Linked DNA regions of Homo sapiens: region 2 is linked to region 1. The links come from fine-mapping of genetic effects on gene expression. A gene starts in region 1. The other region holds a variant in brackets. All regions are shown on one strand. Distances are from middle to middle. Region 1 holds the start of GNL3 (G protein nucleolar 3). Region 2 overlaps PBRM1 (polybromo 1).

The links. PIP is the estimated chance that this variant, and not a neighbour inherited with it, causes the effect.
Region 2: its variant is the best candidate, but not a certain one, in a credible set for the expression of GNL3 in whole blood (INTERVAL, PIP 0.77).

Annotation. Positions count from the first base shown.
Region 1 is chr3:52,683,004-52,688,382 of GRCh38, reverse strand. GNL3 (G protein nucleolar 3) reads right to left here and starts at 2,351. Exons shown (of 15, transcript NM_014366.5): 1 at 2,278-2,351; 2 at 1,556-1,614; 3 at 1,000-1,137; 4 at 768-881; 5 at 191-274. The coding sequence starts at 2,290. PBRM1 (polybromo 1) reads left to right here and starts at 2,470. Exons shown (of 32, transcript NM_001405607.1): 1 at 2,470-2,634. RefSeq lists enhancers at 2,124-2,193, 2,188-2,876 and silencers at 2,514-2,663, 2,734-2,883.
Region 2 is chr3:52,656,427-52,661,805 of GRCh38, reverse strand. It overlaps PBRM1 (polybromo 1), which reads left to right. Exons shown (of 32, transcript NM_001405607.1): 6 at 3,491-3,607. Among named protein-coding and RNA genes, the nearest start is that of PBRM1, 27 kb to the left of the region's middle. The variant C/G (reference allele first, on the strand shown) is at 2,456.

The DNA.
Region 1 (5,379 bases):
AGATAACTAATGTCGTACTAGGCTTAATACCTGGGTGATGAAATAATCTGTACAGCAAACCCCTATGACGCAAGTTTACCCATATAACAAACCTGCACATGCACCCTTCATCTTAAAAGGTTAAAAAAAAAATGACTTGAGTCTTTTAAACCTCATTACTACTGTCAGACACTGACCTAGGCTAAGATACCTTTTTAAGTTCTTGGCAGTACAGCTTCTTTGAATTCTGTTTGCCCGACTTGGCTTTGTTCTCAGTTTTGCAAAGCCCAAACTCCTAGAGGATAAAGGGGGAAATAACACAAAATTAGAAGTAGAGCAACTGTAACCTCTAACTCCATTTTCCACAGCTGAGTAGCAGCCCTTGCAGTTGTTAAATAGGTAAGATGGAGTCTGAACTCAGTTGTCTTCCTCCCAAGAAGCTCAGCAGCCTGTGGATGTGCTTTTATTTCTGCATCAGAACTCATCTCTCAGCCAGGCACAACAGCCCACACCTGTAATACCAGAAACTTCGGGAGGCTGAGTTGGGTGGATCACTTGAGACCAGCCTTGGCAATATAGTGAAAGCCCGTGTCTGCTAAAAAAAATTAGCCAGGCGTGATGGTGTGCTTCTGTAGTCCCAGCTACTTGGAGACTGAGGTGGTAAGACTGCTTGAGCCTGGGTGGTCCAGGTTGCAGTGAGTTGTGATTGTGCCACTGCACTCAGGCCCAAGCAAAAAAACCAAAATCAAAACCCCTGATCTCTCATTCATAAAGAGACCTAATCATACCTTTTCCATAGGTTCCACATTTGATGGCTTAATATCAGGATTAGTTTCAAGTTTTCTTTTCTTTTCTAGTTCCTTCTGCCTGTCAAGTTTCTGCTGCTGTTTTAGTTCTTCAAGCTGTCAGAGCCATAAGGGAAATAGGTGAACCAGTGACTAGTGTTGTTACCTTACTCTGAAAAATATCACACATAACACACTACACCACTCAATGAAAATTCTGGCTAACATAACTTACCCTCTGTTTCCTTAGCTCAGCTTCCCTAAGAAGAGCCTCCTTAAAGGGAGCACTGTTTGGAACTCCTGGGTCTTTCCTAGGCTTCTTGTGACCCCGCTTTTTAGCCTCCTTTCTTAATTTTCGATGATGTTCTCGAACCTATTAAAATAAAGAGATTTTGTCTGCTTACAAAAATATCTTTATACTTAAGCAGAATTCAAGTGAGAAACCAATCTGGCTGCAATTTAGTTATGCCTATAAAATGTCCTAGGAAAATGGAGCTTTAATTGGAATCTTACAAAGTAATGCATATGTAAGTATAAAACAGCAAGAAATTGTAACTAGAAGGCTCTCTATGCAGAGATTAACATGCTGAACAAATTTAGAGACTTATCACCAAATCACTGCACTTTCTCACAGCTGCACTCCTGATGCCTAAGAGCTTGTGCCCATGGTCAGTCTATCCAATGCCATTTCCCAAAACCAAATCACATTAACCCAGACTTTCCCGCAAAGGAACAGGGCAAAATCAGTTTAGCAATGTGTTTGGTACAGCTCTCTCAAGCACTACACTTACCTTTTTTTGGATTTTATACCGCTTATGGCAGGTCATGCGTTTACTTGCTTTCTTTAACTCTACAAAGAAACACATCACAAATCTGTTAACCCAAATGATTAGTTCTGGGTTAACGCACTATGGAGTTATATCCTTTTCTTGTGTTATTGGCTACCAAACCTAACGTTAAGTCTAATGCGAAATGCCTAATGCAAACATACGTGCTACTTTCAAATCCCAGAGAATTAAATTCAGTAGATCCAGAATGGAGTCAAAATTCCCTGCACTTACCCTCACAATATTAGAATGGGATCATACACAACAGCGTATGAGACACAAAACGACAACCACTTCGTGTCAAACAGCACGAATCATAAGGCAGGAGAGGAACACTGAGTCTGGGAGGCGATTCTCAGCTCTCACCTGGGCCAGTCTGCACGTGGCCACGGAAAGAAAATATTGGGCCTCAAACCTGGCTCAGACGCTGCTTCCTTACGAAAATCTAGCCTAGTCTTCCCCACCCTCTGCCCGGCTTCGTTCCGCAGAATGAGCCCGCGCGGTTAACATGATCGCCGTAGGGACTTCCAACTCTCGGTTCTACCAGGAAATAGGGCCAAGGCCTACGCGTAGGCTCCCACCCCCATACCAGCAGAGACAAAGCCGTAGCCGTAGAAGAGCGTCGTGGTGGCTGCAGCAACTTCCAGACGTGGGTCCCTCCACGCCCGCCTCCCGACCCCACTTACTAGGCCTTTTCATATTGGCTGTAGAAGGAAGCACAAACACATCAACCTGCCTCCGCTGGCGCCACGTGTGAACTGAAGCCACTGACGAGCGTCACGCACTTACGCTGCCGCCGTAAAGTGCGTCACCGCCTCTCTGCGTGCGCGGGCACGCAGTGTCGCGCGGAGCAGGGATCGCTTGGCGGCCGCGGGACTGGTTTTGCGGCGGCACCGGGAGGGGTAAGGGAGGTGAGGGCGGCGGGTGCCGAAGCGACGGCAGCGGCCGCGGCCGGAGGAGCAATAGCAGCAGCCGTGGCGGCCACGGGGCGGGGCGCGGCGGTCGGTGACCGCGGCCGGGGCTGCAGGCGGCGGAGCGGCTGGGTAAGGCCGGGCCCAGGGCGGGTGGGGCCGCTCCCCCTTGGTCAGCTGCCGGGCCTTTGTGTGGGCCCGGGCGGGCGGGAGCCGCGGCGGAAGCCCCGCCCCGGCCGTGGGGACGCGCGGGTCGGGCCGGGCGCGCGGGGTTGGGCGGGGCGCGGCGGCTGGCCTCCGGATGGGCCCAGTAGCCTTGTCGCACCTGCCGGCAGGGACAAAGGCGCACTACGGGTCGGAAACTCCCCGCGCTCCTCTTTCCCGCTCGTCGCGGGGCAGCTTCAAAGCTGTCAACGTTTCCCTCAGTCCCCAATACCAGTGACAGGTCGGGAAAGTCCTTCATTTCCTCCGTTGCTCAGGGCCTCTTTTTTTTGTTGTGGTTTCTTGACGGTTCGACACAAACTCTTAGTGATTTTCTTTCCGTATTTTTTCCGGGTATTTTAATCAATGGGACTTGTATTTATAGTAGAGGCCAGATATTTCAGCTTCTCAACACCACAAAGAATCCGGGATTTTGGGAACTGTGTATATTTCTTGGTTTGGGGAAGCACAGTTTTGTTATTATAATAAGTTTTAATTTAAAGGGGAAGAAAGAGTTGCAAAAATATAGAAAAAGCCCTGAAAAATAAGTACACGGTATAGTGGATATAGAAATTCTTACAATAATTATAGAAGCGTATGTTGGGGTGAATTGTTTTAATTAACTTACTTTCCAACACAGGATTCTTGACAAATAATTTTAGGTATTATTTTTTTCTCCATTTGGCTATGTGCTTTTCCCCAAAAAGTGCAAATTGGACTCATGCACATAAAAGAGTAGCATAATTTTTGCTTTATTACTTACAGGTCGCCCATATTTGATTTTGAGCTCCAAAATGGAAGATTGGAAAATATGTTTTGAAGAGGTGTTTCAAATTAAAACAATAAAGAGTTTATGTGTGGATGAATGGAAGGGCCTTGACCGCTTTCTTTGGCTTTGGGAATGTACAAAATACCTCAAATGTTAATATCCTACCAAAATTCCCAAGATAAGTAAATTGTGGTGTATCTATATGATAGATTACTATCAAGTCATCAAACATCATGAGGAAGAATGTTGACTTGGAAGAACCTTCACTAAAACACAGGCTGTAGAATAATATATGTGGTTTGTTAACATTTTGGTAAAAAATAATAGGTAACTAAGGCATAAATACCAAAAACCGAATGACAACGTTAAGAGTGGTTTTTTTCTTGGAAGTAGGTTTATAGGTGTTTTTTTTCCTTTGAGTCCTGTTTTCCAAGATTTTGTTTTAAACATGTATTGTATTGCTAAATATTACTAGAAATATAGGAGAGGGCTAAAGTTCATAAACGGTCGAAATACACTGTTTGTCTATAGTAAGTCGATATTCTCCCAGTTGCACATTATTAAGTATTCTTAACTGTCCACTATAAATTATTGATTGTTAGACTTTTGAACTTGTAACTGTAATCAAGGCCATTTTAAAACTTGGCATTGAACTCTGGAATCTGTCTTTCCTCTTCATGGAAAGACAAAATTGCTGAAGGGATGCTTACAGGCATTTTTTTTTTTTTTTTTTTTTTTTTTTTGAGACAAGGTCTGACTTTGTTGCCCAGGCTGGAGTTCAGTAAAGTGATCATGGCTCACTGAAGCCTTGTGCTCCTAGGCTCAAGCAGTCCTCTCACCTCAGCATCCCAAGTAGCTGGGATTACTGATGTGCAGCACCACACCCAGCTAATTTTAATTTTTGTAGAGAAAAGATCAATCTATGTTATCCAGTCTGGTCTTGAACTCTCTGCCTCAAGCGGTCATCCTGCCTCAGCCTCTCCAAGTGCTGGGACTACAGATATGAGCCCCTGTGCCTGGCTGAGGACTTTTAAACTATACAAATAAACTTTTTTTTTTGAAGGTCTCAAGTGCACTTTTTTTTTGTTTTTTTTGGAGACAGTCTTACTCTGTCCCCCAGCCTGGAGTGCAGTGGCGCAATCCCAGCTCACTGCAATCTCTGCCTCTCTGGTTCAAGCAATTCTCGTGCCTCACCCTCTCGAGTGCCTGGGATTACAGGTGCATGCCACCACCTTGCCTAGATAATTTTTTGTATTTTTGATAGAGACGGGGTTTCACCGTGTTGGCCAGGCTGGTCTTGAACTCCTGACCTCAGGTGATCTGCCCACCTCAGCCTCCTAAATTGCTGGGATTACAGGCATGAGCCACTGTGCCTGGCCCTAAGTGCACTTTTAATACATTTATTAAAAGATAAACTGAGCACATAACCTATACCAAATACTATCCTGTAAGACAGGTCTACAAAAATGAATATGCTGTTCCTGTGCCTGGGGAACATGCAGAAGTGATTTCACTTTATGTTGTTTTTTTTTTTTTCTTGAGACGGTCTCGCTCTGTCACCCAGACTGGAGTGCAGTGGTATGATCTCGGCTTGCTGCAACCTCTGCCTCCTGGGTTCAAGCAATTCTCATGCTTCAGCCTCCCAAGTAACTGGGTTTACAGGCATGCACTGCCTCAGCCAGCTAATTTTTTTTTTTATTATTTTTTTGAGACAGAGTCTTGCTCTGACGTCCAGGGTGGAGTGCAGTGGTGCCATCTCGGCTCACTGCAACCTCCGCCTCCCGGGTTCAAGCGATTCTCCTGCCTCAGTCTCCCAAGTAGCTGGGATTACAGGTGCGTGCCACCAAGCCCAGCCAATTTTTTTTGTATTTTTAGTGGAGACGGGGTTTCACCGTGTTAGCCAGGAT
Region 2 (5,379 bases), 27 kb after region 1:
AGTGTTGTGATTAGAAGTTGGAATGTAATCACCTTAGTGAGGAATATTTCTGTAGGTTAGAATAGTTACTGTTCCTAGAACCTCCCAGGTGTGTTTCTGCCTCTGGAATTTTGCAGTTGTTCTTCTGCATAGAAAGTGCTTCCTTTGACTTTTCCCGTGACTGGCTCTTTTTTATTGTTCTAACACCATCTAAAATGGTGTCTACTGAGACAGGACTTTCCTGACCACCCTATCTCCATTGTTTGCTCCGCCTTCCTCCTTTTCAGCCCCTACCCCACCCTGTCATCACAGGGTTGTCTTCAGTTTTTATAATGTCACTATATGTGAAATAACATACTAGTTTACATGTTTTTCTCTCTTTCCCCAAGTAGAATGATAGCTCCTAAGCAGGTATCTTTTTGTTCATTTATTCCTCATATCTGCACTATACCTGACATGTAGGTGCTGATAAATATTTACTAAATAAAGACACATGCTTCATGGCCAGGCGAGGTGGCTCACACCTGTAATCCCAGCACTTTGGGAGGCCAAGGCGGGAGGATCACTTGAGGTTAGGAGTTCAAGAACAGCCTGACCAACATGGTAAAACCCTGTCTCTACCAAAAATACAAAAATTAGCTAGGCAGGTGGCACATGCCTGTAATCCCAGCTACTCTGGAGGCTGAGGCAGGATAATCGCTTGAACCCAGGAGGTGGAGGGTGCAGTGAGCCGAGATGGCGCCACTGTACTCCAGACTGGGCGACAGAATGAGACTCCATCTCAAAAAAAAATGAAAGACAGAAAATAAAAAGACATGTTTGAAAAGAGAAAAAAGAATAGTAGAGGGGATCACAACTCTTTTCTACAGCTAAATTGTGAGAAGCACATTGCAGAATATTCCCCTTTCTTCTGTAACTTATCTACATAGGCCTTTTGCTGGAATACAGAGAAGCAGTGATGGGTGAATTTCTCAAAAATACAATTACTTCTTAGAGTCTCAAAATACAGTTCCTAGTCAGGTGCTGTGGCTCACCCCTGTAATCCCAGCACTTTGGGAGGCCAAGGCAGGCAGATCACCTGAGGTCAGGAGTTTGAGACCAGCCTGGCCAACATGGTGAAACCCCATTTCTACTAAAAATACAAAAATTAGCTGGGCATGGTGGTGGGCACCTGTAATCCCTGCTACTCGGGAGGCTGAGGCAGGAGAATCGCTTGAACCCGGGAGGCAGAGGTTGCAATGAGCTGAGATCATGCCACTGTACTCTAGCCTGGGTCTTAGAATGAGACTCTGTCTAAAAAAAATATAGATAGATAGATAGATAGATATACACAAAATATATATACACACATATACATGTAGTTCATATATTTTATATGTATAAAATTTTATATTTTATATATGATATGTAAATATATGTATATAGTTCCTCAGCAGCTTGTCAGTTTCTTTAAGTAGTTAAGTGATTGGAACTAAATAGAAGGCTAAAAATAGGAATTTCCTGGAATTTTACTCTCTAATATGAATACAGGAGAAGCAGCCCATGCTTTCTTCGGTAGAACACTGCTTGCAGAGGCCCCACCCTTAGTGTAGGCCTTCAGGGCTCTAGTCAAAAGATTAAAATGCCTGTATTTAGGACTTGCCCGTACTTCTGTAACGCATAATTGATGAGAAATTGGGAGGGTCTTGTACATTCACATTTATACCTCCCAAGCCTCTTTCAAATTTTGTTTTTTTGAGACAGTGTCTTGCTCTTTGGCCCAGGCTGGAGTGCAATGGCACGATCACAGCTCACTGCAACCTCCACCTCTTGGGTTCAAACGATTCTTCTGCCTCAGCCTCCTGAGTAGCTGCGATTGCAGATGCCTGTCACCACACCAGCTAATTTTTGTATTTTTAGTATAAGTGAGGTTTCACCATGTTGGCCAGACTGGTCTCGAACTCTTGACCTCAGGTGATCCTCCCACTTCACCTTCCCAAAGTGCTTGGGATTACAGGCATGAGCCACCATGCCAGACCCCAAGACTCTTTATAACTCAATGATTCTCATGGAGGGAGAAGAAATTTTCAGGTTTCTAATTTTTAAATCAAGGATGATTTTCTTGGGTCTGGTGCGGTGGCTCACGCCTGCAATCCCAACACTTTAGGAAGCTGAGACTGGAGGATCACTTGAGCCCAAGTGTTTGAGACCAGCCTGGGCAATGTAGTGAGACGCCCATGTCTACAAAAAGTAAAAAAATTAGCCAAGCATGGTGGTACACATCTGTGGTCCCAGCTACTTGAAAAACTGATGTGGGAGGATTGCTTGAGCCCTGGAGTTAGAGGCTGCAGTGAGCCATGGTCACACCACTTCACTCCAACCTGGGCAACAGAGTGGGGAGGAAAAAAAAGTGTTGCACCTTAAAATTGAGACTATACTAAATAAAAAGAGCTTCTGTTGGATTAGGACACAATACCAGTACTTTTATGATTTAAAC[C/G]AGAAAAAAAATTACTCTTTATTTTATATGTACAAAAAATGATTTGGACTAGAAGCATAATTTAATCCTTGACTGAGACATTCCATTGCTTATTCTAGAAACTTGCTTCAGACTTGGACCCTCCCTGGTCAAGTACTCTTTGGGGCATATACTTCCTATGTTGAAACAGTGACTAAGCTAGGTATAAACCAGTGGGTCTAAAGAACAGAAATGGTGTACATTGATGTACTTAATCGCTGTTTAGTTTTGACTTAATTTGAATTCAGTTAGACTTGGTAGAGCACCCCGTGGTTAAAAGTATGTAGTCCCAACTCTATGTAAGTAGTCATTGTCCTGTAAGTAGTCATTGTCCTGTAAGACTTCAATAGATGTGAACAGCAGATATAGAAATGAACTATTATGGGACATGCTTTCTCCTGCTCAGTTGCTCATTTCACATTTGTAGCACTTAAACTTTGCCATTGCAATATTTACTGTAGAAAAAGGTTCAGTAGAAGGACCTAGTACAAGGGATTTCATTGCAAAAATAATATAAGGCACCTCATTAGGTTCATATAGGTTGTTCTAGGGATACAATGCCTATGTCCAGCATCAGAACATTATGGGGTATTCTTGAAATTTGGAGTTAAAATAAGTACTGCTTAGAAGTTGCTTTCTTTGGCCAGGCACAGTGGCTCATGCCTGTAATCCCAGCACTTTGAGAGGCCGAAGTGGGCAGACATGAGGTGAGGAGTTCGAGACCAGCCTGGCCAACATAGTGAAACCCCGTCTCTACTAAAAAAATAAAATTTAGCTGGGCCTGGTGGCGCATGCCTATAATCCCAGCTACTCGGGAGGCTGAGGCAGGAGAATTACTTAAACCCAGGAGGTGGAGGTTGCAGTGAGCTGAAATTGTGCCACTGTACTCCAGCCTCTCCATCTCAAAAAAAAAAAAAAAAGTTGCTGTTTTGAATTAGCTCTACAATTTTAGAAGCTATGTAATATTCAGCATTTTATTATTTCTCTTAGAAAGTACTTTTTTCTCCACATTACCAGTCTTCTCCAGCTTACTTGAAGGAGATCCTGGAGCAGCTTCTTGAAGCCATAGTTGTAGCTACAAATCCATCAGGACGTCTCATTAGCGAACTTTTTCAGAAACTGCCTTCTAAAGTGGTAAGTGATGCAGTTAAAAACAGGTACATGTCAGTGTTTTGTTTTTAGTACTTCAAGAATTGTATTAATTACTGATAAATAAAGTAAGTTCAAAAGGAAGATGTTGGGCCGGGTGTGGTGGCTCATGCCTGTAATCCCAGCACTTTGGGAGGCCGAGGCAGGTGGATCATCTGAGGTTGGGAGTTCGAGACCATCCCGATCAACATGGAGAAACCCCATCTCTACTAAAAATACAAAAAATTAGCTGGGTGTGGTGGCGCATGCCTATAATCCCAGCTACTCGGGAGGGTGAGGTAGGAGAATTGCTTGAACCCTGGAGGCAGAGGTTGCAGTGGGTGAGCCAAGATTGCGCCATTGCACTCCAGCCTGGGCAACAAGAGCGAAACTCCGTCTCAAATTTAAAAAAAAAAAAAGAAAAGGAAGATGTTGGGCCAGGCGCAGTGGCTCACGCCTGTAATCCCAGCACTTTGGGAGGCCAAGACAGGCAGATCACCTGAGGTCAGGAGTTTGAGACCAGCCTGGCCAATGTGGTGAAAACCCATCCCTAGTAAAAGTATAAAATCTACCCTGGTGTGATGGTGTGTGCCTGTAATCCCACCTACTCGGGAGGCTGAGGCAGGAGAATTGCTTGAACCTGGGAGGTGGAAGTTACAGTGAGCTGACATCATGCCGTTGCACTCCAGCCTGGGTGACAGAGCAAGAGTCCATCTCAAAAAATAAATAAATAAAAGGAAGATGTTGGAGGCCCCCAAGAGATCCTCCTCACAGCAGCACAAAATGTATACGGTCTATCATTTTACATGATCAGAAGGTTATGATTTTATTTTTTTATTTTTACGTTTTTTGTTTTTTGATTGGTAATTATTTTTATTTGTTTCTTATTGTGGTAAAGGATATGTATCATAAAATTTATCATTTTAGCCATTTTTAAGTGTACAGTTCTGTGGCATTAAGTACATTCACATTTTTATGCAACCATCACCACTATCTGGAACTTTTTAGTCTTACAAAACCAAAACTCCATACCCATTAAACACCAAGTCCACTCCCCTCTTCTCCCAGCTTCTGGCAGCCACCATTCTGCTTTCTGTCTATGAATTTGACTATTCTAGGTACGTCATAGAAGAAGAATCATTCAATATTTGTCCTGTGACTGCTTATTTCACTTAGCATATGTTCAGGATTCATCTATATTGTAGCCTGAATCAGAATTTCATTCCTTTTTAGAACCGAATAGCATTTTGTTATTTCTATATAATACCTTTTGTTTATAAGTTTTTTGGGGTGTTTTGTTTTGTTTAGAGATAGAGTCTTGCTGTGTTGCCTAGGCTGACCTCAAACTTCTGGGCTCAAGCGATTCTCCCACCTCAGCCTCCCAAGTAGCTGGGTATACAGGCTTGTGCCACCGTGCCTTACTACATTTTGTTTACTCATTCATCTGTCAATGGACATTGGGTTGTTTCCAAGATTGGTAATTCTTCATTGATAAAATAAGCACTTTAACTAAATCTTTTTTATTTATTTATTAATTGTTGAGACGGAGTCTCGTTCTGTCACCCAGGCTGAAGTGCAATGGCGTGATCTTGGCTCACTGCAACCTCCGCCTCCCGAGTTCAAGCGATTGTCCTGCCTCAGCCTCCCAAGTAGCTGGGATTACAGGCATGCACCACCACACCTGGCTAATTTTTGTATTTTTTAGTAGAGACAAGCTTTCACCATGTTGGCCAGGCTGATCTTAAACTCCTGACCTCAAGTGATGCACCTGCCTCAGC